4 linked regions of the Homo sapiens genome follow. The protein of the gene in region 2 interacts with the protein of the main gene of each other region in a pairwise test. Each region holds a gene or a part of one and is shown on either strand. Other genes may lie near its edges.

What was found.
Region 1: the proteins of SPART (region 2) and EPN2 interact in binary tests that used the Homo sapiens proteins (3 or more experiments, as listed by UniProt).
Region 3: the proteins of SPART (region 2) and UBAC1 interact in binary tests that used the Homo sapiens proteins (3 or more experiments, as listed by UniProt).
Region 4: the proteins of SPART (region 2) and OTUD7B interact in binary tests that used the Homo sapiens proteins (3 or more experiments, as listed by UniProt).

What each region holds. Positions count from the first base shown.
Region 1 is NC_000017.11:19,331,349-19,337,226, reverse strand, and holds the end of EPN2 (epsin-2), read right to left. Parts: intron 5,375-5,878; coding exon 5,159-5,374; intron 3,272-5,158; coding exon 2,973-3,271; 3' UTR 512-2,972; downstream 1-511. UniProt on the Homo sapiens protein: Plays a role in the formation of clathrin-coated invaginations and endocytosis.
Region 2 is NC_000013.11:36,343,386-36,350,912, reverse strand, and holds the start of SPART (spartin), read left to right. Parts: upstream 1-4,518; 5' UTR 4,519-4,688; intron 4,689-4,779; exon of another isoform or gene 4,780-5,112; intron 5,113-5,338; exon of another isoform or gene 5,339-5,733; intron 5,734-7,527. UniProt on the Homo sapiens protein: Lipophagy receptor that plays an important role in lipid droplet (LD) turnover in motor neurons.
Region 3 is NC_000009.12:135,951,358-135,958,385, forward strand, and holds part of UBAC1 (ubiquitin-associated domain-containing protein 1), read right to left. Parts: intron 4,059-7,028; coding exon 3,938-4,058; intron 2,397-3,937; coding exon 2,323-2,396; intron 1-2,322.
Region 4 is NC_000001.11:150,000,703-150,007,730, forward strand, and holds part of OTUD7B (OTU domain-containing protein 7B), read right to left. Parts: exon of another isoform or gene 6,003-7,028; intron 1-6,002. UniProt on the Homo sapiens protein: Negative regulator of the non-canonical NF-kappa-B pathway that acts by mediating deubiquitination of TRAF3, an inhibitor of the NF-kappa-B pathway, thereby acting as a negative regulator of B-cell responses.

The sequences.
Region 1 (5,878 bases), on a different chromosome or scaffold from region 2:
GAACCAGTGGCTCCAACAGGCCCTTCCTCTCAGGAACACGCAGTTGGCTGGGCAGCTCCACGCACTCCCTCCCTCTGTTGCCTCAGCTGACAGGCAGTGGCTTCCCAGAGCAGCTCTTCTGCAGCATGGACACAAGAGGAGGCAGAGCACAGGAAGCCTCTGGGGACCCGGCACACTGTCACTTCCACCTCATCCAAAGCAGCCTCCACCAGTGACAAGGCCGCATTAAGAGGGCGGACACAGAAGGGTAAAGGGCAGTGGCTAGCACTTCCCCCAGCACACCCGTGCAGGCCACCAGTCTCAGCACCTCACAAAAGGCACGCCTCCCACCCCCTTTCCCTGAGGTTCAGGGGCAACCAAATGCCCAGCTCACGCGGGCACTAGGACCAGGCTGGTGGCCTCAATAACTGCAGACCAAGCTCCACAAGAATCGGCTCCCTCATCTCCCACCTCTCCAGTGGCACAGGACTGATGAAGATGGGGTGGGAGAAGGACACAGCCAGAAACCGCATCATGGTACAAATGATAAATTATATTTATACAGTAAATAAGTATCAACAGTCAACACAAGTTCAAAACCAGCCACCGGCCTCTGGGACTGAGAAACAGCTGGGTGACTTCCTCCACCACGGTGCCCATCAGGAGGGAGCACGATGGCACAGGTGCAACATGCGTGGCAGTGGCCGGTGGCTTCATGATCAGTGCAGTGGGCAACAGGGACATGCACTCGGGATGGCCTGTGCCAGAAGATGGGGCAGGGGGCTGTCTTCTTGGGTCCCGGTGGCCCAGTGGCTGTCATGTTGGGGCCTCAAAGTCACATCATGAAAGACTCGTTACAAAAGAATCACTGACCCCAAGTAGTCGAGTCTAGTCTACTGACCTGTAAGGCTGGCCCAGGCCCTGCACCGTCTGAAGGAAAGCACCTTTCTGGGCAAGCATCCTGCCTCCCATCCCATTGCACCTCCCCACCCTTCCCCCGGCAGACGAGACCAGCCACCGGCTTACCCAAATGGCAGCGGGAGCCTAAGACCCAGCCGCAGGCCTGCAGTTCTGGCAGAAGGTGGCTGGTCAGGAACTCTAGACACGGCTCCTGGGACTGGAGAGGGCGGCCTCAGGAACAGCATGAGTGGGTGCAGTCCCCACTCAGAGCCTGCATGTCCCAGCAGCCCAGAGACCATTTAAGATCTCTCCTGTGCCGGTGCGAAGGGTAATCTTCTGGAACCAGAGAGGGGCTGGCAGGTGGTCAGCTGCCCTTAGAGCTAGAGGTGAGAAATTCCCATGGTGGAAAAAGGGCCAGAAACATCCACCAGGCAAGCTGCCCAGACACAGGATTGGGGGAATGTCCCCTCCCTGGGTAAAAGCAAGTCTTTTCTGGTCTTTAATGCACGACGTAATACTTTTACAGTGGTGGGTGAGGTGAGGACAGTAGGAGTTTGGAAGAGGGAGGTAATATTAGTGCATGTTTGTTAAAAATCCCTCCCAGGTGAATGACTTTTTTCTTCATCTCCAAAATACAAGAGAATTATTTTTAGGTCTCCAACTTAAAAATAATATCTGGAGTTAGCAGGTAGGTGGATCAGGGCCAGCCCTGGTCCCTTAGCCCCCCACCCCTGTCTTAGCCTAGGGACTGTTGCCCAGGGACCCGTGGGCACAGAAGCACCCCCCACCCCACGCCCTCGGGACAACTGCCATTTCCACATTATCCCCATCTTTAGCCTGAGCGTGGATTAAGACAGAGGAGATCACAGACACACAAGGTTAAAGATGTTTCTTCCATTTCAGATTTCCATTGTAAACAGAAGTCCTGTTAATCCCTGCATGCCTTTAATAAAAAAAAGGAATTAGTTGATAAAAATTGGTGAGTCACATTCATACATTAGATTTTTTTCTTTAACTTTCAGGATGTTGGTATATTCGTAAGAAAAATAGCCTCTCAGGATCTAGCCAAAAAGGCTGAAAGTCAATCAGTTTAGTAATTCACCAAAAACAGGAGCTAAAGAAAGGAAAAGGCAACTGGAGGCTAGGATTTTTTGTTGCTGTTGTTTTTTTTTTAAATAAACATCATCATCTATGTGTAATCAAATTCCCATATTTTCTTCCTATAAAGAATTTGCTTTAGTTTTTCAATAAGGCATTTTTTTGTCATCCAAACATCTCTTCCTTTTAAAATTTTCTTAGAGTTAAAACCATAAATAAGAGGATTTAAACCACTAAAATGACACGTGCCAACATCTTCATTCAGCCAGACCTGGTAAATTCTATCAAAACTAGACAGTTAAATAAGAACCACGTTATAAAAATATTAGCCAAAAAAAGACTATTAGATAATTCTGCAAACTCAAATATGAAACTGTACTAAACAAAATATGTGCAAAGGTACACAAGCATAGAGCCACGTTGGGGGTTATGCTCAGATTAGTTTTAAAGCTCGCTCTAGTGGATTTAATTCAAGAGTTGTCCACGGTGGTGGTGTTTACTTTGAACTCACACGAGTCAAAGAAAAATAAAATATGCACAACCACTTCCCCAAAAGGTGTCTTATGGAGCCGGTGCTTCATCGTGTCCACACCCAGGACTGCCTGGGGTGTCCCTAGGGCTGGGGGGTGGGGAGGACAAAGACAAGGCCACTGTCCCAAGTCCTGGGCCAGGCAACATCCTGGAGACCCTCGGGCTGAGGTTAGGGGCAAGGGCAACACTGATGACTCCACGTCCTCGTCCAAGGCCTCAGAGGAGCCCTGCCAGGACCTCAGTGCTTTGGAGGAGGTGGTGAGAGCAGGCCAGGCTGAGGGGCCTGCCTTGGAAGGCGAGGGTCTGAGGGTTGGGGCTGTAAAGACAGCCCTTTCATCAGGAAGCTGGAGCTGAAAAGCCCTAATACCCCTAATCCCCAAACTCTTGGATCCCGTCCCACAGACGAGAGTCCCTGCTCGGCATCCTCCAGCACAGGTGCTCTGGGTGGGTCCCAGGCCCAGGCACTAGAGAAGGAAAGGGTTGGTTGTGCCAGTGGCCTGGGCTGCTGATGGGGGTATACCCACACTGCCCACCATGTTCATCATTGCAGGGCCCAGTGGTGTCAGAGAGGAACCAGTGGCCCCCAGAGCTGGCTGTGGGGCCGCGGAGGTCATCGAGGCCACAGCCATGGACTCCACTCCTGGGCCAGGCCCAAAGGATGTGCTGGTCCCCAGGACTGGGCTCCCCCGAAGCTGGTTCAGTGTCAGCGGCTGGGGCTGGTTCACCTGGAAAGGGTTAACAGGGGCCGAGGTGGCGGGAGCACCTGGGGAGACAGAAGGAGGGGCAGAGGCTGAGCCGTCAGGGTGTGGCTTTCTGAGCTCCCAGGTCAGGGACTGCATGCGGGTGTTCTGGTCCCTGCTGTGCCCTCAGAGCCCGTGACAGTGCCGGCCGAGTCCATGGCAGACACTAGCAAATATCTGCTGACTGCATGAATCTGCACTTTAAGGATGAGGAGATTGAGGCTGTGAGAAGCCAAGTGATTTGTCCAGCGTCACAAAGCTGAACAAGGCCATGCCAGGAACACACCCATCTCGGGGCACCCTGGCTCCTCTGCAGTGCTGGCACCCAGGACACCTTCACCAGCCATCAGCTACCACTGCTCCCTCATTTTGTTTGCTGAAAGGGACATGGGACTGGCAGTGTGTGGCTCATGTGGCAGTGCCCACAATGCACCCAGGGATCCACATATGACACCGCGAAGGCTAGAAATCCTGCAGTCAAGAAGTTGATGCAGCTTTGTCTTTCCCAGTGTCTCCAGAATTTACCTCATACCAGAAAGCCTTTTCTTTGCAAAAGTGTGTGCGCTGCTGGCACCAACTCTCCCATGCAGCCTGGCCCTACCCTGTGTGGCCTGGAGAATGGCCCTGTATGTCCAGCAGAGTTGCCCAAACCTCCTCCATCTTGGCTGCAGCCCCCAGGAACCATGACTGGTGTGCAGCCAACAAAGCTGCCTCAGGCCTCCAGCCAGGTGCCCACCAAGAGCTGACAGACACAGATGACCACTGGAGCTCCTGCAGGGCCTTCAAGGGCTCTCTGGGCAGAAGAGGCATAAGGCCTCCTGGGGCAGACACAGACTCCTGGCTGGCTGAGGAGGCTGGAAACTAATCTAGTTCCACCCAGGGAACCACCTCCCCTGGGGGCAGCCATGTCCTCACCCATCTCAGGACCTCAGGGTTGGCCAGGACCCAGTAACTCCACACACCTCACCTCTGCCCAAGGGTCCCCAACCTCAGCCTCTGTAAGTTCAGTGGTAATTCTCCTCTGCAAGGTACTGTCAGGGACGGTGGCCCAAGATCCTCAGATCCCTACATGGTGGGGCCAGCCTGGGGCTGAACACCTGAGGGTGACACATTCCTGCCCTGGGGGAAGCCCAAGGCTTTGGGGAAACCCCGTGAGGAAGGGGGCTGGGTGGACTTCCTAGAAGGGAGTCATCTGAGCTAGGTGTCAAAGGATGAGGAAGATGCTTTCATTAGGGAAGAGGAGGGAGGACATTCCAGGCAGGGGAAACTGAGTGTGTAACAGCCTGGGCTTAAGGAAGGGCTCTACAGGCTGAGGGGCGCCAAGGGGCTGGATGTCACAAGGGTTTCATGCACACAGGAAGGGAAGAGGAGGGTGGGACCAGGCCATAATGGCCCTGGATACCCAATTGAACAGCTGGGGGCTTGGCCGGCAGCCAACATTGAGCCCTGAGGGCAGGGGGCAGACTCTGGCACCAGGAGTGGAAGCAAGGGACCTGGAGGAAGGCTTGTACCCAAGGGCTAAGTTACATTTTTCCCGAGAGAGGAATGCTACACGCCAAACCCTGGCTCTTCCTCACCCCCAGCAGCCCACCCTACTCCACCTGTCTTAGAACTGACATTCCCTCGAGGGTCTCACAACTGGGGGGGCACCAAGTCAGGGACAGTTTCTGCTTGGTAGTCTCAACTGAGAGGAGAGGAGCTATTTCCTACCCATACACTCCCCACATAACTGACAACGGCTTCCACACCCCACCCCATGCAGCACTGGCGAGGGCATACGTAATCATCTAGAGATTCCAGCTAGTCCCACCCCTTCCCCGTCACACAGTGGGAAGAGCCCCCAAGAGGCCTGCTGCACACCCATTCCCAGGCACAGCAGGCAATGGATGAAGCCTGGGATGAGAGCCTACCTGGTGCCAGGAAAGGGTTGAGGGACTGGGCTGGTGGGGCAGGCCTGGTCACCAGTGAGTCCAGGTTCACCAGGGCCGCGTTGGGGCCCAGGAAGGACTCAGGTGTTTTCCGGGCACTGCTGGGCTTGCTTGAGGCGACAGTCAGGGGTTGAGACTCAAAGGGGTCAGGGCTGGTAGTTCCATTGTTTTGGGATGGCAGAGAGGTCACAGATTCGGCTACAAGACAAGGACACATATGGCAGGGTGAGTGTGGCAGGGAGAGCCTAAGACTGTGTACTTAACACAAAACATGGCCTCCTGGGGACATGCCTGCCTGACAGCGCCACGTGACGACACACAGCCAGTCATGGGCTGGGTTAGATAAATCAAGTGTCCACATAACGAAACACCAGCATGCAGGAACAGAAGAATACCTAATGATAAGCAAAGAAAGCTTTATCAAAATACTAAAGCAGGTTATAAAAGAGTGTGTATAGCTCATTCCTCCAGAATACCAAGATGTCATTTTGGGTTGGAAGCTAGGCATGGGCAATTTACTTTTTTTTTTTTTTCTTACATTTTCCATTTACTAAATTTTCCACAATAAACATGAACTTCTTGATAGTAAAAAGAAAGCAAATTGTGTCTTTTAAAATTCAGCCCATAGAGGCAACACAGGCTGTGCTGAGCCAGGCCGGTAGGAATGTGATTGCCACGACGGGATGCTTCACGGTACAGGAA
Region 2 (7,527 bases):
TAATCAATACCCAGATTTTAATTTTTTATGTGCTATTTCCTAGTATCTTTTTTCCTACTCCTCCTTTCACACTAAAACTTTTCCCACTTTATGCAAGAAATACACAGCTCCCTAAATCTTACTCTGGTGCATTACCCAGGGGTAAAAGCCCCAAAAGTGCCATGATTTCAAAATATTGTTCTCTTCTATAATGGTATGATGGTAATTTTCATTTAAAGACCTCAGCCACAATTATTCACTAGTTTTAGAGAATTATTTTTTTTAGAAGGATCTGGTAAGAAAAAAAGACAGGGGAGAAAAGTTAGAAGTTAAGTGACAGCAGCTGGTTTTTAGCCAATTATTCCTATCCTGAGATGGCCAGGTGGAAATGACCAAATCAAATCTCCTTGTAAACATGCAAGGTATATTCTGGTGGAAAGAGAATGGGGAGTCCTTGTCTATGAAATGCTTTTTAGCAGGGTACACCTGGTCTGTCTAGATGGCCTAAGGTAAATAAACCCGGAATTGATCGATATATTAATACATGGAATGGCCCAGTGGAAAATGTCAGTGTCCACCATGTAATTATTTCAGTATAAAACGGAGATAGTTCCTGACTGAAAGAGCTCCATCTGTGTAAGTGTTCACCGGCATAACTTACTCAGAGACCTCACCTGCGAGATCTAAGCCAGAATGTGTTCTAAGGAATTCGGGGAAGCCCTGGGGACCTGGGTTAGTGGTTTTGGATACTGCCATTATTTTCTTGTGACTGGGTAAAAGAAAGCTCTGAATCTTGTCAGTCTGATTTGACAATCCAATCCTTGTTTTACCTCAATAAGATATATTAAATGTTAAAAATGGCTTTTTACATGTTTCCAAATATACGCAATTATTTTCTGCTAATCTCAAGCACCCCTTTGGCCTAAGCAGATCCAAGTTTTGTGATGCTTGCAGCTTTCACAGTTTGAATGGCCTTCTGTAGGAAAATAATAAAAGTGAATCAAAAAATTACTAATTTAAAAAAGCTGACGAATACTACAGATACCACAAAATCCAGAAAAATAACATCATTCTATTATTCAGGTGCTTGGCACAGCCCATAATACTTTCCCCCACCTTTCTTGGCTCTATGCTGATTGCTTCTTCATATGAAAATGATTTTGCAACATATTCCACAGAGATAACAGATAATTCAGTTTTTCCTCTAGCATAGTTTATCAAGATTAGCTTTTTAATATAATTTAGGAAAGCTCAGTTCAGCTTCATAATTCAGTATTAAGAGTGTCACAGAATTTCACAATTATCGAATTTGGAAGGACCACTAATACAGGTTTTGACCAGGTACTGAGGAGCAAACCAAATCCTTTGCTTACACTTTTCTACAGATGAGCTTCTGGCCCTGTTCACTTTACTTGTTCCTTCTACCACATCCTTCTGGTACTGGGCACTGTAGGACCCAAACAGAAAGCAATATGGTGCCTGGCCAGTGTCTTTCTGTTTGGATGCCAGGTAATTCTGCAGTCAGTAGTACGAATATTCCTAGAAGTCAGCACTAGACTACTATGGCTAGCAGTAACTTAACCATACGTGGAAGCTTCTGTGAACATAAACATACCTCATAAAACAAAAATTAACCACACTGACTTACTGCAGTTTTTTGCTTGTTTGTTTGAGACAGAGTTTTGCTCTTGTTGCCCAGTCTGGAGTCAATGGCACAATCTCGGCTCACGGTGACCTCCACCTCCCGGGTTCAAGTGAGTCTCCTGCCTCAGCCTCTTGGGTAGCTAGGATTACAGGCATGCGCCACCACGCCCAGGTAATTTTGTATTTTTAGTAGAGACCGGGTTTCTTCATGTTGGTCGGGCTGGTCTCGAACTCCCGACCTCAGGTGATCCGCCTGCCTCGGCCTCCCAAAGTGCTGGGATTACAGGTGTGAGCCACCATGCCTGGCCTGCAGCTTTGTAGTTAAGTTTTGAAATTGGAATGTGTCAGTCCTCCAACTTCATTCTTCTTTTTCAAGATCTGTGTGTGTGTGCTCATGTGGCTATTCTGGGTCCTTATATTTCCCTGGATTGTATGAATTTTAGGATCAGCTTGCAAAATTCTGCAAAAAAGTCATTTGGGATCTTGACACGGATTGTGTTGCGTCTGGAGGTCCATTTGAGAAGTACTGCCATCTTCCCAATATGAAGTCTTTCAACCCTTTAACATGGGATGTCTTTCCATTTATTTAGGTCTTTAAGTTCTTTCAGCAATGTTGTATGGTCTTCAGCATACAAGTCTTGCACTTATTACATTTATTTCTAAGTATTTTATTCTTCTTGATAATATTATGAATGGAATTAATTTCATTTTTGAAATGTTCATTGCTAGTGTATAGAAATACTATTGATTTCTGTATGTTGACCTGTTGTCCTGAATCCTTGATGTACTCATTTATTAGTTCTAACAGTGTTGTAGTAAATTCTTTAGGGTTTTCTATATATAACAATTTTGTGTATAGAAATTCTACATGTTTTAAACACATTCATCTTTATGGCTGTTGGAAATTTAAAAAATTCTATTTAAATGTATGTACTTTTTAAATGTAAAGAAGTAGAGTAGATGACCAATAAAAGATTTCCTTTCTTTTTTTGGTGGGGGCCAGGGGGTACAGGGTCTGGCTCTATTGCCCAGGCTGGGGTGCAGTGGCACAATCTCAGTCACTGCTGCCTCTGCCTCCCCAGCTCAGGTGATCTTCCTGCCTCAGCCTCTGGAGTAACTGGGACTACAGATGTGTACCACCATGCCCAGCTAATTTTTGTGTTTTTTTGTAGGGACGGGTTTCGTCATGTTGCCCAGGCTGGTCTCGAACTCCTGGGCTCAAGCGATTCTCTTGCCTCGGCCTCTGGAGTAGCTGGGACTACAGGCATAAGCCACCAAGCCTGGCCAATATTTGCAAGACTAAAGAAATATTGACATACAATTTCACAATATGGAACGGAAATATGAGTTCAAGAAGAAAAGAAATGATGTAAAATTTCCTTCTGTTAAAAGCTTGTTCATGTAGTTTTAAAAATTGATGATTTTAGATATTAAATTGGTATTTAGATTCCACTGGCTACATTTAAAAGTTATATAACTTTTATTTTAAAATGTTAATTTATAATAAAACAGAAGTTGCTTCTTTTGTAACTATTTAAGTCAGATGAGAAATTGTGATGGTCAATCCAAAAACGTGGAAGTGAGAATACAGTCATAGTCTTTGGGGACTCCTTTGGGGGTATAAGAGCAAAATCATTTTGAAACCACTGTATTAATATATTCCTAATAGGTTTTGCTTTTTGGGATGACTGACTGCTACCTTTCTGAGATTTGAGGGAGTCACTTAACTGGTCCTAAGGCCAGGCGCGGTGACTCACGCCTGTAATCCCAGCACTTTGGGAAACTGAGGCAGGTGGATCGCTTGAGGTCAGGAATTCGAGACCAGCCTGGCTAACTTGAGGTCAAGCTTTCAAGACCAGCTTGGCCAATATGGTGAAACCCCGTCTCTACTAAAAATACAAAAATTAGACGGGAGTGGTGGTGCACAGCTGTAATTCCAGCTTCTCTGGAGGCTGAGGCATGAGAGTCGCTTGAACCTGGGAAGCAGAGGTTGCAGTGAGCCGAGATCATGCCACTGCACTCCAGCCTGGGCAACATAGTAAGACTCTGTCTCAAAACAAAACAAAAACACAACAACAACAAAACTGGTTCTAAATGCTCCGGGCAAGTACATACTGCTTTTTCTTTTTTCTGTTTTTTTTTCCCTAAGGCAGCCCTATTGAAGAGTCTGTCATCTACAATATTTTACTAATTTAAAAACACTTGTCAAGAAGGGTAAAGTATGTTCATCTTGATTTTACTCTTTGTATCCCGGAATCAGGAACTAACAGTTTTATGATAGTGATATAGACTTTACACACACACCAAGACTTAAAACACGTGGTGCAGGCGGGCTTTTGGAAATTAACTGTGCTCTGGATACAGAAGTCACAAAGCTCAGGCTGCAGAGACATTGAGGGGATAATCAGCCTTTATTGTCTCTCGTGCACTGTGCCCAGCGCTCCCTCTAGCGGCTACAAGCGCTCACTGCCCACACTCTCTACTAGGCTCTCCGGAGGCCTCGGTTTCGCTGGAGAGAAAGAGATTGCGCAGGCGCCGAGCAGCCGACGTGGCCGCAGGGGACCGTGCCTGGGGGGGTCTGCGCGGGGCCGCTGACTCGCGAGGTTCTCTGTCGCCTGCCGCCCTCGCTCCTTTTCTCCCCTTCTAGAGTGTTACGGTGACTCTTGGGTCCGAAGGGGACGGACGTCCTCCCACGTACCATTTAGAAGGTCAGAGTGGGCAGAACCTAGTCTGAGCAGGCCGGTGATGAATCCGCTGGCAAGACGCGCGCGTGGGTACTCACGTGACCTAGGCTGCGGCGGCGGCGTGCTGCGGGCTCTGTGGCGGGAGCGAGGCCGACGGGCGGGGCCGCGCGGCCGCGTGACGCGAAGCGTTCGAGAGCGCGCGTCGTGGAACGTCTTGGTTGCCACGGCAAGCGCGCGCGCGAGGCCTTGGGAACCTCGGGACCGGCCCCCGGCGAGCGCAGCGGCGCCCAGTGTAAGGGAGTGGGAGCTGGTCCGTGCCGCGGCGGCCGCGCAGGGAGCTCTCGAGGCAACGCCGGGGCGCCCGAGGTCTGGAAGGCGCAGGTGGGGCGCGGGGGAGTTCACCCCTGCGCGGTCCCTTGGGTGGGCGGGGTGGGCGCCCCAGGCCCCGCGGACTCGGCTGGGAGGCTGAGCGGGCGACGGTCACGGGACAAGGGTGGAGGGGGTGGGGACCTCATCCGAGTCTCAGAGATGGAATTTTCGAGGAAGGGAGCGATTTCGAGAGAGAATAGTTTGAGAAGTTGTTCTCAGTCCCTTCTCTCGCGGGAGTGTGGTATTTAGGGAAGCTTCGGCCTCTTAACCCATGGACTGTTAGGATGGAGGGAATCCTTCCCGCTCGATTCCTATCGCGGAGTCCTTTCGGAGCATCGCTATTGATCATTCTCGCCGCCCCAACCCCGTTGTTTACTTTGGCTTCGCAGATCTCTGTGGTCTTTTGCCCTCCCGCAGCGCCCATGGCCCCGTCAAGGTTGGGCAGCCTTTCTCTGCAAGAAGGCCCACGAACAACTGCGGTTATATTGGGATGGATTGCGCGTGATTTTACTCTTTACAATACATTCTTTCATGCTTCCTAGGGATTGAGCTGCGCGGCGGATCCCTCCGACTTAATTCTGGGCCTGAGAAAAGTTTCTCTTGGAATGCGCAGTTTCGTGACGCAGCATTATTGCGTGACTCTAGGGCTGACCCAGTTTTTCACTTTCTAATTGTAAGGAAGTGCGCTAGTAGTCCACCGAGGATCCTCGAGGTTGGCCTTATTGTATCATAATTTAACGAATTTGCGTTCCAGGTTGTTACAGCCTTTGAAATAATGGCCTCATATTTAAGAATGTAGCAATTTTTCTTTGAAATTTCCGAAAGTGGGGAAAAAAGTAATAGAAGACTGCACCTATATGGAATTATTTTCTGATTCGCAGTTCTTTATAATCGTAGACTTAATTTGGTGGCTTTATTGGACCTGTTTGAAACAGGAAGCCTTTCTGTAATGTGGTTTCGGGTCGGCTTCACCTCTGGCACTCTCTGAAACGTCGTTGTCTATGGTTTCCCTAAGAAGCTAGAATGAGCGGGATGCTACGGAGGGAGGTGTATACAGGTGTTAGACAAAGCCCCCTCCGCTTTTTTGGTAAAGGGCCAAATAGGCATTAGATCAACTTGTGCTAGCTCTAAGGAGTTAAATGCGGTATTATTAAAGACTGCTTGTAATGTTGACTGTTAAGTGAGAGTGTTACTTCTTTCAGTGTTTATGGAATCGAACTAAATTGCTAGGTATTTTAATGCAGAATTTTACCTTTTCTCGGGTATTTTTTAAGACATACACAGACATACATGTAGTTATGTTGAAATAAATGTGTTTTATTAGAACGTTAAAAAATTAGAATTTAGGTGAACTACTGGTATCGGAACAGATTTTGGTTTGTTGTTGAAGACTGTACACTGGTGTAGGTACTGTTTAATACATCAGATTGTCATTTCAAAGACTTTGTCTTCTTAACTTTGAAAATTAAATAATGTGAAATAATGTGATAATGGTTTTTATCTTTTCAGGACACTTGATTGACACTTAATTGTGCTTAGGAATAGAATAGGCTTTTTTTTAAGTCACCATCCTCCAATCCTTATTTCTGTAAAATGTATTTTCTGAGACCGCTGAGGATATAGCAAATCCCAGTCACAAAATAAAAATGTGATATTTTAATATAAACCTTTTTCTTTCTGTGTTGAGATTCCCCAGAGATTAGACTGAAATTGACCATTAGACTTATATATAACCTCTAGATACCCAGGCTCTTCTCTCGTGTATCCTTTTTTTCTCTTTAAGATGGAGATGTAGCAAGGAAGGTTATTAAGCAATCCTGTGGAATTAGCCCTCCCACTCCACCCCTACACACAGGCACACTCTTCTTTCTCAGTAGCCATCTTGTTCCCTCCATTGACACATTATTAGGAAATCTTTCATCACACCGTATGTAAAATAAGCTTAGAAATAAACGTATACCCAAGGTAAATATTGCTTCTAGCTATATTCCTTCATTATGCCTCGCTTCTACTTTCAAATGCTACCTATTGAAGATTTAAGCCACATGACTTTCTACGACGGGACACTCTGGGTTTTCTTCACCCCTCCCTCACTCTGCTGACTTGTAAACATAGTAGGACTTTTAGATTTGGAATCAAACACATCTCATCTAATTTTCATTTTCATTTTTCTTTTCTTTCTTTCTTTTTTTTTTTTTTTTAAAGAGACAAGGTCTTGCTCTGTCACCCAGGCTGGTTGGAGTGCAGTGGTGCAGTCATAGCTCACTGCAACCTTGAACTTCTGGGCCCAAGCGATCCTCCGGCCTCAGCCTGTGCAGTAGCTGGGATTACAGGCGAGAGCTCATTTAATTTTCTTGACAGATAATCTTCTGATCCATGAACTGATTTGAATGTATCATTTACTAGCTCTCTTCTTGGGCAAGCTGCTCAATATTTGTAAAACATTTTTAAAATCAGATATCAACCTCCAAGAGTGAGGATTGGATAACCTTAGAAGGGTGCCAGACACATATAGAGAGCTTAACAAAAGATAGTAAATTTTGGTGCTTCTGAGGGCCAGAGACAGACCATGTCCATTATATCTTTGCTATATATTATAGTTGTGAGTGATTTTTAAAGCAGTACTTTTAATTTGCTTGTGAACCCCCAAATAATTTTTGTAAAACTGTCCCTCTTGCACACTTTTGGTTAACTTACAGCATTTTACATCATGCGTTAGTTGAAAAGAATGCAGTTTCCCACATGGTATTGATATTAACATTTTAATATTGGTACATCATTCTTTCACCTGTATTCAGTGGGGTATCATATCTTTGTAGTTTTATATCCATCACCATCAATTTTTAAAATA
Region 3 (7,028 bases), on a different chromosome or scaffold from region 2:
CACACACCTGTGGTCCCAGCTACTCGGGAGGCTGAGGCAGGAGGACTGCTTGAGCCCAGGAGGTCAAGGTTGCAGTGAGTTATAATTGTACCACTGCACTGCAGCCTGGGCAACAGAGTGAGATCCTGTCTCTAAAACAAAAACAAAAACTAAATTAAAAATTAATGTAGGCCAGGCGCAATGGCTCATGCCTGTAATCCTAGCACTTTGGGAGGCCGAGGCAGGTGGATCACCCGAGGTCAGGAGATCGAGACCAGCCTGGCCAACATGGTGAAACCCCATCTCTACTAAAAATACAAAAGATTAGCCGGGCGTGGTGGCACGCACTTGTAACCCCAGCTACTTGGGAGGCTGAGGCAGGAGAATCGTTTGAACCTGGAAGGCGGAGGTTGCAGTGAGCTGAGATCACGCCACTGCACTCTAGCTTGGGTAACAAAAGCGAAACTCTGTCTCAAAAATAATAAAATAATAATAAAAATAATAATAATTAATTCATAAAAATATGAACTGACATCTTACAATGTTTCAGTTTGCAAATATTTGAAGAGAAAAGGTAAGCTCCTCAGGTTAGCTCCAAGCTACCCATCCAAGAGGCTGTGGGGCAACGGGTGTATGGTCAGACCCCGCTGTTTATATTAGTTACGGGCCTGTAAGTCTGAACACCAACGGTCAAACTGTAATCTGAGAACTGTGAATGCTGCCTGCAGCAGTTCCCAGAAACAGGCCTGACTCAGGGACAGGCGGAGGCAGGCCCAGATCTGTCCGCTGCAGATGGGTGGGGCGGCAGCCTGTGTGTCACTCATGCGTGGCCAGGTGTGGCTGAAGATAAGGAGGGGACCCAAGCCCAGGGTGCTCTTCCTGGGTACCCATGGTCCCAGATGAAACCCAAAAATAGCTTATGCACTACCAGGCATGGGCCTAGCCCAAAAGAGTTTGACCTGCTCTTTCTCTGGGGTGAACACTCTCCTTAGCCTTTCAAAGCACGAGTAAGAAATTCTACCCTTGAGATGAGTAATGCAAAGACAGCAGAGGAAAGTGGCTGCCCTTCTAGCTGGCAGGCTCCATGCTCGGCACGGGCTCAGGCCCTGCTGTGGGGTAGGACACGCCACTTGCAGAACGCATCTTCCTCTGCTCAGTGAGCTTTCCAAAACATGAGCTTCTAGGGCAGCCAGTAAACAACACACTGCACGGTGTTCCTAAGGTACACGTGCAAGTGGACGGTGCAGACCATGAATCAATAACGTGTGAGTGAATGTAAACACCAACGACATCCAGTTCTGTTTTGCAAGAAATAGACAAGACAGGCAGAACTCAGCCTCTCTCAGCATTAACAGTGCAGCTGAGTATCCCTCATCTGAAATGCCCGGGACCAGAACTGTTTCGGATTTCGGGTTTTTTCAGATTTGGGAATATTTGCATTCCAAATAATCAACTCAAAAAGCACCAACGAGCACTTCCATTAAGTGTCATTTTGGCACTCAAAAAGTTTCAGACTGCGCTGCATTTCTGCGTTTGGATTTTCCGATGGGGATGCTGAGGCTGTGCGGTGTGAGGTGGGGCTTGTCGCGAGTGCTCCCTCACCGGCCACTCTCTGCATGCGCAGCCCTTATTCTGTGTGGTGGTTGGTTACCCACTTTCCTCCGTTTTTCTGTCAGGACTGACTTGGCTGCTTGAAAAGAGGAGGGAACAGGAGCACACGCAGGTGAAGGCGGACAGCAGCGCGGGAGTGAACCGTCACGCAGGATGTGTCCCTACCCTCCTCTCTGTCTCAGAAAACTCAGAGGCAGGTTTTCCGTGCTGGTCCCGTGAGCAGGGAGGGACCAGGACTGACACGGATTAAACAGGCTCTGCCGGGAGAGAGAACCCCTTATAACCACATCTACTGTAAATGGCGAATGCGTGGGTTGGTGAACAACTAGTATAGAGAACTTCTTTATAATTCTTTTTTTTTTAAGTTTGTATTTATTTATTTAATTTTGAGATGGAGTCTTACTCTGTCGCCAGGCTGGAGTGCAGTGGCACGATCTCGGCTCACTGCAACCTCTGCCTCCCGGGTTCAAGAGATTCTCCTGCCTCAGCCTCCTGAGCTGCTGGGACTACAGGCATGAGCCACCATGCCCAGCTAATTTTTTTTGTATTTTTAGTAGAGCCGGGGTTTCACCATATTTGCCAGGATGGTCTTGATCTCTTGACCTCGTGATCCACCCGCCTCGGCCTCCCAAAGTGCTGGGATTACAGGCGCGAGCCACTGTACCCAGCCTGTAATTCTTAAATGTAGACTTCTACCAACCAAGGTCCCCAATTGCAAACTTTGAAATTTACCTTTTCTTCTGCTGAGACATCAGCCATCTTGGGAAGTGGTGATGGAGCACGCTTTTTTATCAATAATAGGACATCTAGAAAAAACAACACGTATATCCAACACACTGGTTATCACTTCATATCCACAAAATGGCATAAAGGGTGCTGGATGCCCTGAGAACAGAACAGCAGGGATTCGGCCGGGCGCAGTGGCTCCCATCTGTAATCCCAGCACTTTGGGAGGCTGAGGCGGGCAAATTACCTGAGGTCAGGTGTTCAAGACAAGCCTGGCCAACACGGTGAAACCCCATCTCTACTAAAAATACAAAAATTAGCCAGGCGTGGTGGCGCATGCCTGTAATCCCAGCTACTGGGGAGGCTGAGGCAGGAGAATCACTTGAACCTGGGAGGCGGAGGTTGCACTGAGCCAAGATTGCACCACTGCACTCCAGCCTGGGCAACAGAGCAAGACTTCATCTTAAAAAAAAAAAAAAAAAAGAAGAAGAGCAGGGCTTCAGCTGGGTGCAGTGGCTCACTCCTGTAATCCCAGCACGAGGCAGGCGGATCACTTGAGCCCAGGAGTTCAAGACCAGCCTGGACAACATGGCGAGACCCCATCTCTACGAAAATATAAAAAATAGTTGCGCATGGTGGCACATGCCCGTAGTCCCAGCTACTTGGGAGACTGAGGTGGGAGGACTGCTTGAGCCCAGGAGGTCAAGGCAACAGTGAGCCTGACTGTGCCTCTGCACTCCAGCCTGGGTGACTGAGCGACACCCTGTCTCAAAAGAGCATGGGTTCCTTTGGTCCCCCCAAACCAAGCATCTACACCAGCCTTCCCTCACTTTTGCATGATATCTGCATGGCCCTAGCTGAGGTACAAGCTCCCAGGCCTGGCACGAACCCCCAGGTGACCCATGGCCCAGGAGGCAGGCACAGCACGGCCCCAATAATTGTGCAAAGAATTGGTGACAATCCTGCAACAGGCATTTTAACCGGCTCAGTTCTGAAAAAGTCTGTGAGGGTGGAGAGTTTAGTCTTAACCCTCAGAGGTCAAAACCTGAGATGCAGCTCATCCTCGGCCCACGACGGTGCCCATCCCCCACTGGCTTGGAGCTTGATGGTCATCTCAGCGGATATCTGTTAGCAATACTTCCAGGATTTTCAAAACAGCTTACTTCAAGGACTTCCACAATTAAAGGCATTATTTGAATGACACAGACAAAACTGATGTCTGCTCTTCAAGTGCCTCCAGACACAAAACCATAAGCAATTACATGGATGTGTGTGTCTAACACTGCACTGGGATGCCAACATCACCACAACGAAGGTGAAACCTGCAGAACCCCTGGAGTCTCTGGCTTTGCTCTGAAACAGAACTAAAAGCAAAATTCACATTTGGCTTCTCAAATGCCTGCTGCTTGTTCAATTTCAATTTCTGCTGTTTTTCACAAATACTCTATAACAGAACTCTTTTTAATAAAGGAAAAACAGAATGCTTTTAGTCGATCTCGTTTTTGTGCTCGTGTCCAGCTCAGAACACTGACTCCTGTGGGTGGACCACCCCCTCCTGGCTCCAGCGCCCCCAGCAGTGCACGATGCCTGCTGCCAACCCGCCCGCCCACAGCAGCCTTACCTTGGTCCTGGATGTTCTCTTCCAGGATGGTCCTGGCATCACTCAGCACCCTCTCTGAGGCAGCGTGGATTAATTTATGATGGGTTATACTTTTGGGATCTTCTAAGCTCCCATGAGCACACTGGGGAAAAATAGAAATTTCAAGGTAGAAAATAAGTAAATCGTAATTCTAATAATATAGGACCTGGCATCCCAAGCTACACCAGGAATTTACTGGGTTTTCTTATGAGCTAAGAAATTACACCATGGATGAAATTAAAGAATTCCCACTAATGGTAGATGCCAAATGAAGCATCATAGCACCAGTGAGCTGATCCCCAGCCCATGGAGTACTCCTGAAGCAAGCTCCCAGCTCTGATATACCACACCCTACTGACAATTCGCGGCCACCAGAATTGCTTCTTTGGTCTAGAAAGATCTGGAAAATAATTTTAAATGAAAACAGCAGATCCATTGTTTCCTGATGACCTAAAGATCTACCTAAGTTTTGGGTAGCTGTTTTTCTTTTTTCCACAGACGCATGAAAGGGGCCAGAAAGGCTGCCCAGAAAGAAGACTGGCTCACAGAGAGCCTGAGATGGGGATAAGAGGAGCGCTCGGCATGACTGCTCTCAGCTTGGCTCAGCTCACTAAGTAACAGCCATGCTGCATCCCGAGATTGGGATAAGAGGGGCACTTAGCATGACTGCTCTCGGCGTGGCCCAGCTCACGAAGCAACAGCCATGCTGCACCCCTGGGCGGCTTGAAGGTGGACCAATGGGCACGCAGTCACCAGGGCCCTGGAAACCCTGCCACACCCGGGCAGGGAACGGGAGGCAACACATGGGTAGCAGTGAGGGGATCCCCTTCACACACACCACAGCCACCTCCGAGCAGCGCTCACGGGGGACCTGGGAAGCCATCTTGACAGCTACTGAGTGCAAACTCCAGGAGGAAGTTGGAGCAGACGGCCATGACCCCTTCCAACCCTGCCATTACAAAGATCTCACAGCCAACTGCTGGCAGGGGTAGATCCTGCTCCTCAATTCGGCCAGCATCCTCTCTGCAAAACAGCACACAGCTGTCCCTGATTCATGCACGTGGCACTGGCTTGCGGGAGTCCTGCTTTCCTTTGAACACGGGGGCTAGGCGCGTCGGCTCACCATTTTGTGAAGAATGGCAAACACTGATGGTGCCGTGTGATGAAGACTGAGGTCGGCACATGTGCCTGCATGTTCGTGCCCAAGTCGGTCCAGAGCTCCACGACTCCACTCTATTATCTACCTCAGCACCATACAGCCCGACACACGACAGCACAGCACAGCACACCACCGCACAGCACAGCACCGCACACCACACCAAACAGTGCCCACCTAACCAAATATGGCGCCTCCCCAGCCGGAATCGTGGGGTGAGAGGAGAGGGGCTGCACTTCTGTGTTTCACAAAATACCCACAGTTTCCATAGCCTGGCCTGAAAACCCTTCAGAACTCAGAGCTTGGACGGAGAGAAGGCTGACTATTTTCTTGCTCTTACAGATCCCCTGAGGTTTGATGGTAGAATTACCTGACTATCAGAAAAGGATGAAACCCTCACTGGGCACTTTCTAAACCCGGTAGCAGGCTCAGCCTGTGGGTCAGGAGCATGGCCCAGCCTGGAGCTGGGCCGGGGCACCACCCCAGGACAGGCCGTCCTCGGACGTCTCAGGTGGCCGGGCAGACGCCCTGCTGGCAGCTCACTTTCCACCACCCTTTGCTGCCACAGAGGCTCTGAAACACCCAGCACACACAACTGCTTGCTGGGAAAGAAAATCTAAGCACACACTTCACCTCTCAACACTGGCATTTTCAGAGTAACTGGAATTTCTGTTACTCTCAAGACTGAAAACGGTTTTGAAAAAGGGATTGACGGCTTCAGGGGCTCACTCCTTCACACAAAACTGGCCAGGCTGAGGGGATGTTGGGGGGACGCAGCTACTAGGAAGACACACTCCTGCCATTTACAACAGGGCAGAGAACCCTCAAGTGCCTCTGGATTTGACAATGGCTCTGCTCCCTGAAATACTGGGGGTGCTTCCTCATGATCCTAAAGTTTGCAGGCTAGTTCATTTGTCAAGTTCAGAATACAGACTACGAAATGCAGTTTTCCAAAATAATTCTCATACTGATTCCCAAAAAACCCACAGTCCACGTGTCACCAGCACACCAGGAACAACACGGAAGCACTAGGACGACCGTGTCACTCTGCTTCTTTGTTCTCGGCAGAAGCTGGGGTATGGCAGCAAAAAAGCCCCAACCAAGGCCGCTGGAGTAGGGAGGCCCTCACACCCCCACCCCACTCCATCCTGCTCCTCCCCAGAAGAGTAGTGACTTCGTTTCTGCTTGTACCTGATGCAACCTGCCATCTGAGGACCCATCTTCATGCGATCTAGGAAATGGAAAATTTAACAGCTATACTAGCGGGTACTCTCTTCTAGTCTGGCAATTTTATGAACTCCTTCTTTTTTTTTTTTTTTTTTTAAAGACAGGGTCTCATTCTGTCACCCAGGCTGGAGTGCAGTGGCGCGATCTCCGCTTATTGCAACCTCCGCTTCCCAGGTTCAAGCGATTCTTGTGCCTCAGCCTCCTGAGTAGGTGGGATTACAGGAGTCCGCGACCATGCCAGGCTATTTTTTTACATTTTTAGTACAGAAGGGGTATTGCCATGTTGGCCAGGCTGGAATTTCATGAATGTTTACGACACACCAAAAACTCTACTGCACCACAGGTATAATTTTCTTTTTTTTTTTTTTTGAGACGGAGTCTCTCTCCGTCGCCCAGGCTGGAGTGCAGTGGCTTGATCTCGGCTCACTGCAAGTCCCACCTCCCAGGTTCACACCATTCTCCTGTCTCAGCCTCCCGAGTAGCTGGGACTACAGGTGCCCGCCACCACGCCCGGCTAATTTTTCTGTATTTTTAGTAAAGATGGGGTTTCACTGTGTTAGCCAGAATGGTCTCGATCTCCTGACCTTGTGATCTGCCTGTCTTGGCCTCCCAAAGTACTGGGATTACAGGCATGAGCCACCGTGCTCAGCCAGGTATAATTTTCTAAAACTCATTAACTACCTGTTGTAC
Region 4 (7,028 bases), on a different chromosome or scaffold from region 2:
GCATGGTGGCTCATGCCTGTAATCCCAGCACTTTAGGAGGCCAATGTGGGCAGATCACTTGAGGTCAGGAGTTCAAGACCAGCCTGGTCAATAGGGCAAAACTCCGTCTCTACTAAAAATACAAAAATTACCTGGGCACTGTGGCACGCACCTGTAATCCCAGCTGCTCGGGAGGCTGAGGCAAGAGAATCGCTTGAACCCGGGAGGCAGAGGTTGCAGTGAGCAGAGATCGTGCCACTGCACTCCAGCCTGGGTGACAGAGCAAGACTCCATCTCAAAAATAAATAAATAATAAATAAATAAATAAATAAAGATGTGGCGGGGCAGAGGAAGTATAAAACATGAAGGAATGAACACATCAATTCAGGCCAGTAGTCATTTCTTGAGAAAGAGGAAGGAGGAAAGGATGCAGGGTGGAACTTCAGCTATATCTATAACATTTAATATTTTAAAGGGAGTAAGACATCTAACAAATATGACAAAATGTTAATGTCCATCAAGTTGGGGTTGTAGACTCAAAATTGCCTGAGTTTTTCCCCTGAACTTTTCTAAATGTTTGAAATATCTCATTATGCAAAATTGTAAAATTAATAAAGGGCCAGGTGATTTGATGAATAGAGGAGTCAACACAAAAACAGTCAGGAGCAGAATGGTTTCCCAAAACTATAAGGAGATATCTGACTTGTTCAGTTTTAGACTGAAGAGGAGCCTTCACATCCCTCAAACAGCAGCGCTTAGAACAGGGTAGAGTGAGGACTGACAAAAATGGACAAGAAGGTTTATTGCCATCTCAAATCAGATAGCAGAGGGGAGTGAAAAACCACCTTCCCACATAATTTAAATGCTAGTGTAACCAAGTTATCTCCCCTAAAACAGCCAAGAAAGCTTCCAGTTACACAGGAATTCAGATAAGTACTCACTGTGAGTAGCTATTCTGTGCCTCCTTTCTACCCACCCCTTCCTTCTCCCAAATACTCACAAACAAAAACAAAATGTACCCTTGCCCACTTGAGAAAGAATTAAGACTTGGCAGCTCTGCTTAAGTGGACAGCTTCCAAACCAAGGCCCTTCTCTGGGGAAGATGCTGACAGAGCCCAGAGAAAAGAATTTAAAAATCACAACTCAGACAAGTTTTGAGGAAGGCCTATCAATGGAAGGTATCCATCCTTCCACACGTCCTTAAGTCCCAATTTCTCCCAGGGGAATCTAAGGACTTAGAGGATGCCCTCTACCCTGTTCTGTTCTCCTCCAGCAAAAGTGACTAAAACACAAAATCCAAACTCTCACTTAGCACTTTAAAACCAAACAATTTCCCTCCACAAAAATCCAATGAAAATGAAAATACAGGGAAGATGCAGAATCTGAGTATTTAATATTTTAAAGAGAGTAAGACATCTAAAACAAATATGACAAAATGTTAATGTCCATCAAATTTGGGATGTAGGCTCAAAATTGTTTCTGTTTGGGTTTTTTCCCTGAACTTTTCTAAATTTTGTTTAGATATTCTTTTTTTTTTAGATAAATATACTTTTAATCAGTGCCCAATTTATCATAGCTTATTTAACAAGTTTCAGTGGCACAAATAAAACTAAGTTTAAAAGAAAACAACTTAAAGGGAGCTTAGTGGCAGAGATAAAGACATGCAACAAAACAAATACCTTGACATTCTTCTACATCTGAATCACTACAGCTGAAAAATCCTAACACCTCATTCAGCCCAGTCCAGGGCACCGAACTGCCCCTCTTCCCAATGGTACTCTCAGGGAACATCTTTCTCAGTCAGACCTAGGAAAATACCTCTATTCACTTTGGACTGGTTAAAAAAAGACGGTAGAATGGAATGATGTTAAGTCCTTCTATCTGCTAGTACAATGCAATGTGGCAGAATGACACAAACACTGAAATGGGACTTGGGAGAGAAGAGAGAGGTGAATTCACCTTTATTAATCACCTAGTACATGCTGAAGACTGAATTCTAGACTAAGCTATCACAGAACCACTTCTGTGATCCTGAGTAAACCTCAGGTATTCTATTTGAAAATGAATGAGGAAAACTAAGAAAGCATCGCAGCCCCGCCAGTTGTCTGATTCCATGAATCTGTAAATATGATCACTCTCAATAAATGTGTTCAGTATAATGAAGTTATTGAAAGGAATTCTGCTTTCTCCATCTCCAATCCACCCTACACACCACTGACATAATCTTTCTAGGATGTGAAACGTATTAAATGGCTCCTGATATACTGCAGTATAAGATAAAGCTCCAGGCCGGGCGTGGTGGCTCTCGCCTGTAATCCCAGCACTTTGGGAGGCCGAGGCGGGCGGATCGCGAGGTCAGGAGATCAAGACCATCCTGGCTAACATGGTGAAACCCCGCCTCCACTAAAAATACAAAAAATTAGCCGGGCATGGTGGCGGGCGCCTGTAGTCCCAGCAACTCGGGAGGCTGAGGCAGGAGAATGGCGTGAACCCGGGAGGCGGAGCTTGCAGTGAGCTGAGATTGTGCCACTGCACTCCAGCCTGGGTGACAGAGCAAGACTCTGTCTCAAAAAAAAAAAAAAAAAGATAAAAACTCTGTATGATCCAGCGTTGCCTACCTCTTCAGCCTGCCCTCCATCCCATCCTCCAGCCATAATGATTAAGTAAAAGTTACCTGAAGAAGTCTGGCCTTCATTCCTTTAAGCTTTTGTTCATGGTATTTTCTCAGACTGGAATGTAATTCTTGTCATCTGTAGAGTATATCCTTAATTCATCTTTCAAGACTCAGCTCAAATGCTAACTCCTCAGGGAGGCTCTTTCCAACCTCAGCATGCCCAAGGCAGAACTGACCCTTGGGCTCCCACTCTCCCTGCTGCATACTTCTATCACAGCATCTATCACACTTCATTCTATCTATATATTTACATATCTGTCTCCTCCCACTAGACCCATACGCTCCTCGTGGGTTCCTTGTCTCCCTTACCTCCATCTCAGTGCCTAGGATGGTGTTTACAAGATAGGAGACATGTTTAGGTTTAGACGTGTTTAGGTTTATCAGTACCATTTTCTTTGCCCTTCTGCTCTTTCCCTAAACTTTAGTCCTCAGAGAGCTTATTAATTCTCTTGGCTACAGCTACCACATCTAGGCCATGAATTGCAAAACTGCATTTCCAAACCTACCCCCATCTTTACTCCAGCTCACACCCAGGACAGCCTTCATTTGGACATTTCATTGCCACTTTAAATCCAACACATCGCAAATTATACTCATCATATTTCCCCAAAATGAGGAAAGCTTCCTAACTTCTTTATTTCACTCAATGTCTCAGACACCCAGGCACAACGTGTCACAGTTGTAGTTGACTCATCACCCTTCTTCATCTCCCACATCCACCCCTCATTAATTTCCATTTTTCCTTCACAGTCTCTTTTTCACTCTTTCCTCTCCTTAGCCTACCCTCCACAACTCTAACTCGGGCCTCATCACTTCACACACCCCCAGTGTCAATCTCCATTCCCTCCCAGCCAACCTGTGTATTAGTATCATCATACTGCTATTCTATTCAAAAATCTTCTACCATTTAAAATATAAAGTTGACCGGGCACGGTGGCTCATGCCTGTCATCCCAGCACTTTGGGAAGCTAAGGTGGGCGGATCACTTGAGGTCAGGAGTTTGAGACCAGCCTGGCCAACATGGTGAAATCCTGTCTCTACTAAAAATACAAAAATTAGCTGGGCATGCTGGTGCACGCCTGTAATCCCAGCTACTCAGGAGGCTGAGGCACGAGAATCACTTGAACCCAGGAGGCGGAGGTTGCAGTCAGCCAAGATTGTGTCACTGCACTCCAGCCTGAGCTGGACAACAGAGCAAGACCCTGTCTCAAAAAAATAAATAAATAAATACATAAATAAATAAATAAATAAATTTTATATATATATATAAACTTATAAGCCTAGCTTTTTAACACCCTCTATAAACATAGCTCCAAACCAACCTACCCACCTTCATTTCACTACTGCTCACTGCCACTCAGGTTAGTCTCCTCACCGCCCCAAGAACATCTCAGGTATAGTCCTGTTTCCAGGCTTTCGCTTGATCCCTTTCAGCTCCAATATGAAATGTTTTGTTATCCTCTTCATCTTCATCCCTTGTACCTAATACAATAACACTTATTCATTTATTTTTTTATTTATTTTGGAGACAGAGTCTTGCTCTGTCACCCAGGCTGGAGTGCAGTGGTGCTATCTCGGCTGTTTGCAACCTCCATCTCCTGGGTTCAAGTGATTCTCCTGCCTCAGCCTCCTGAGTAGCTGGGATTACAGGCGTGAGCCACTGTGCCTGGCCTATTTTTTTATTAAGATCTGAAATGAGTTATAATTCCTCTGTGACATAACTACCTGAGTACTCCTCTCCCCAAATACCTACGGTATGAGGTCTGCACTATGCAACTAACAATATAGTTTCACATTTTAAAATTTTGTGTGGCATATTAAGAGGCTCAGCAAGTATTCATTCCTTTTTATTCTTCTTACTCCCAACTGGACTGTAAACTCTTCAAGGACACAAAGTTGTCATTTTTCCTAATCCTCCATAGCACCTAGCAAAGAATTAAACTCATAGTGGGTCACTACAAATAACAGTTTAGTAATTTTCTTATCTACAGCTATTTCTTAGAGGAAATAAAGGGCTAAGGTATAATCCTAAAAAAAGCACAGTTGAAAATAATCCCTATCTAGTTGTATAAAATAAGATTCCTGACTTTTCCACCTGATTTCTAGCTCAGAAATACTACAATCTCCTGACTCAAGAAGTAAATAATAATCCTGTGCTCGTGACATCAGTTTGGTAATGATTATAAAGAGGTGGGGGAGAGTGGCAGGGATGGAGAAAAGCAAGTCAACTGGAGAAGAAAAAAAAGGGATGAAAGAATGGCATGTGATTTTGTTTACTTCTTAAATGTGGACACTTCTGCCCATTCCTTTTTTTTTTAATTGGACATACTTTCAAACAACTTTCCTACAGGAGGAAAAGTCTGACAGATTTTCAATGAAGCTGATATCTGGAAGAGCCTCTACAAAGCACAAGTCCTTTGAGAAAGCCGGCTTAATCTTCAACAACACAACATAATGTAGTGGCATTCGTCCAGATACTGTGAATGAAGGCTCATTCTGGCTGGAACACAAGCATCACCTGCCAGTCATTCTCAGACATAAGACAGACAGCCTAGGAGGCCACATTGGATCCATACAGATTTTGAAAAGAAATTGGTCTATCAACATATTCAGTGTAGTCTAGTCTTAATTATCTACAAATGGATTATTCATTTTACGGATTTCTAAGGCCAAATCTTTAATGCAAGAATGACTGTTCTTCATCATCAGTGTACTCTCCCCACCATCAGGTAATATAAGCTTAGAAATGCAAATTTATTTCAATATTAGTATGATCCCCAAAAATGAAAATAAATCTAGTTTAAAAAATAATGTATTTTCGGCCCGGCACACTGGCTCACGCCTGTAATCCCAGCACTTTGGGAGGCCGAGTCAGGCGGATCACGAGGTCAGGAGATCAAGACCATCCTGGCTAACACGGTGAAACCCCGTCTCTACTAAAAATACAAAAAATTAACCGGGCGTGGTGGTGGGCGCCTGTAGTCCCAGCTACTCGGGAGGCTGAGGCAGGACAATGGCATGAACCTGGGAGGCAGAGCTTGCAGTAAGCTGAGATTGCGCCACTGTACTTCAGTCTGGGAGCAAAGTTGTCATTTTTCCTAAACCTCCATAGCACCTAGCAAAGAATTAAACTCATAGTGGGTCACTACAAATAACAGTTTAGTAATTTTTCTTATCTAAAACTATTTCTTAGAGGAAATAAAGGGATAAGGTATAATCCTAAAAAAAACACAGTTGAAAATAACCAGGAAATGTCTTTGTTAAGTTCTGAATTACCTACAACAGTGCTCCCTACATTAGCAGAGACAACTGAGAGTTAAATGCACTTGAAACATAATGCTGTCCTTACTATAAGCTCTTGAGGAGAATCCGGCCATAGTCTTGAGACTTCCCCACAGGTTGGTGCACTACGAGACAGGAACAAGCAGGCTCAGCATAGTAAGGTGTGTAAACACAAAAACTTCTACAAGGAATCTTATGCCTCCTGGCTGTATCCCTTCAGGTTAGGATGGTACAGAAAATAAGAGTCACAATGTACGGATGCCTGCCTGATTCCTTGTCCCTGAGTTCCTGAACCAAAGGGCTCAATATTTCTCATTAAATCCGTCCTTTGTTCAAGGACCTACAATGATTCTATTGACCCTTCTATCAACACCCAACAGAGTCTGGCTTCTGAGTCCCCTCCACCCTCTTGCCTGCTCTACTCATGACTTGCCCAACCCACATTCTCTACAGTCACTCTCATATATTCCCCCCACTCACAACTTAGTCATTCATATCATCATTGCACACTGTACATTCTATACTTTCTGTTTGGAAGATCCTTTCTTTTCTTTTATTCCCAACACAGTAACTATTTCATTTACTTGAATGCTCACATTTTACAGATAAGGAAAAGAAGTTAACTTGTCCAAGGTCACATGGTAAAAAATAGCCGCAAGGTCTGAACGAAGACCCATCTAACTCAATAGCCCATACCTCTTTATGACTCATCCATAGCCTCCCAAGTCCATTTCAAAATTTACTGACTCAGAAATCTCCCCAATTTATTTCACTGATTCTTACTTTGTTACTTTAAGTCTTCTCAGCCCTTACATACTTATCAGCACGTTAAATTTGCTTTTGTCTATATGTTGTTTCCTAAATGTTAAAGCTCATAATAGTCTGCCTTCCCATATTTATACACCACCTTTCCCATCCACCCTCAACCCCAAGAGCAAAGACACATGTCTTTACATCTTTTATACCTCCCTAAAGCCTGTCACTGGAGCATGGAGACTGCTTTATCCAGAGAAGTGTTCAATCATTACTCAGCAAGGATGTCTTATTTAAAAACAAACAAACAACTCTCTTCTATTATATTAAAAAGTCAACT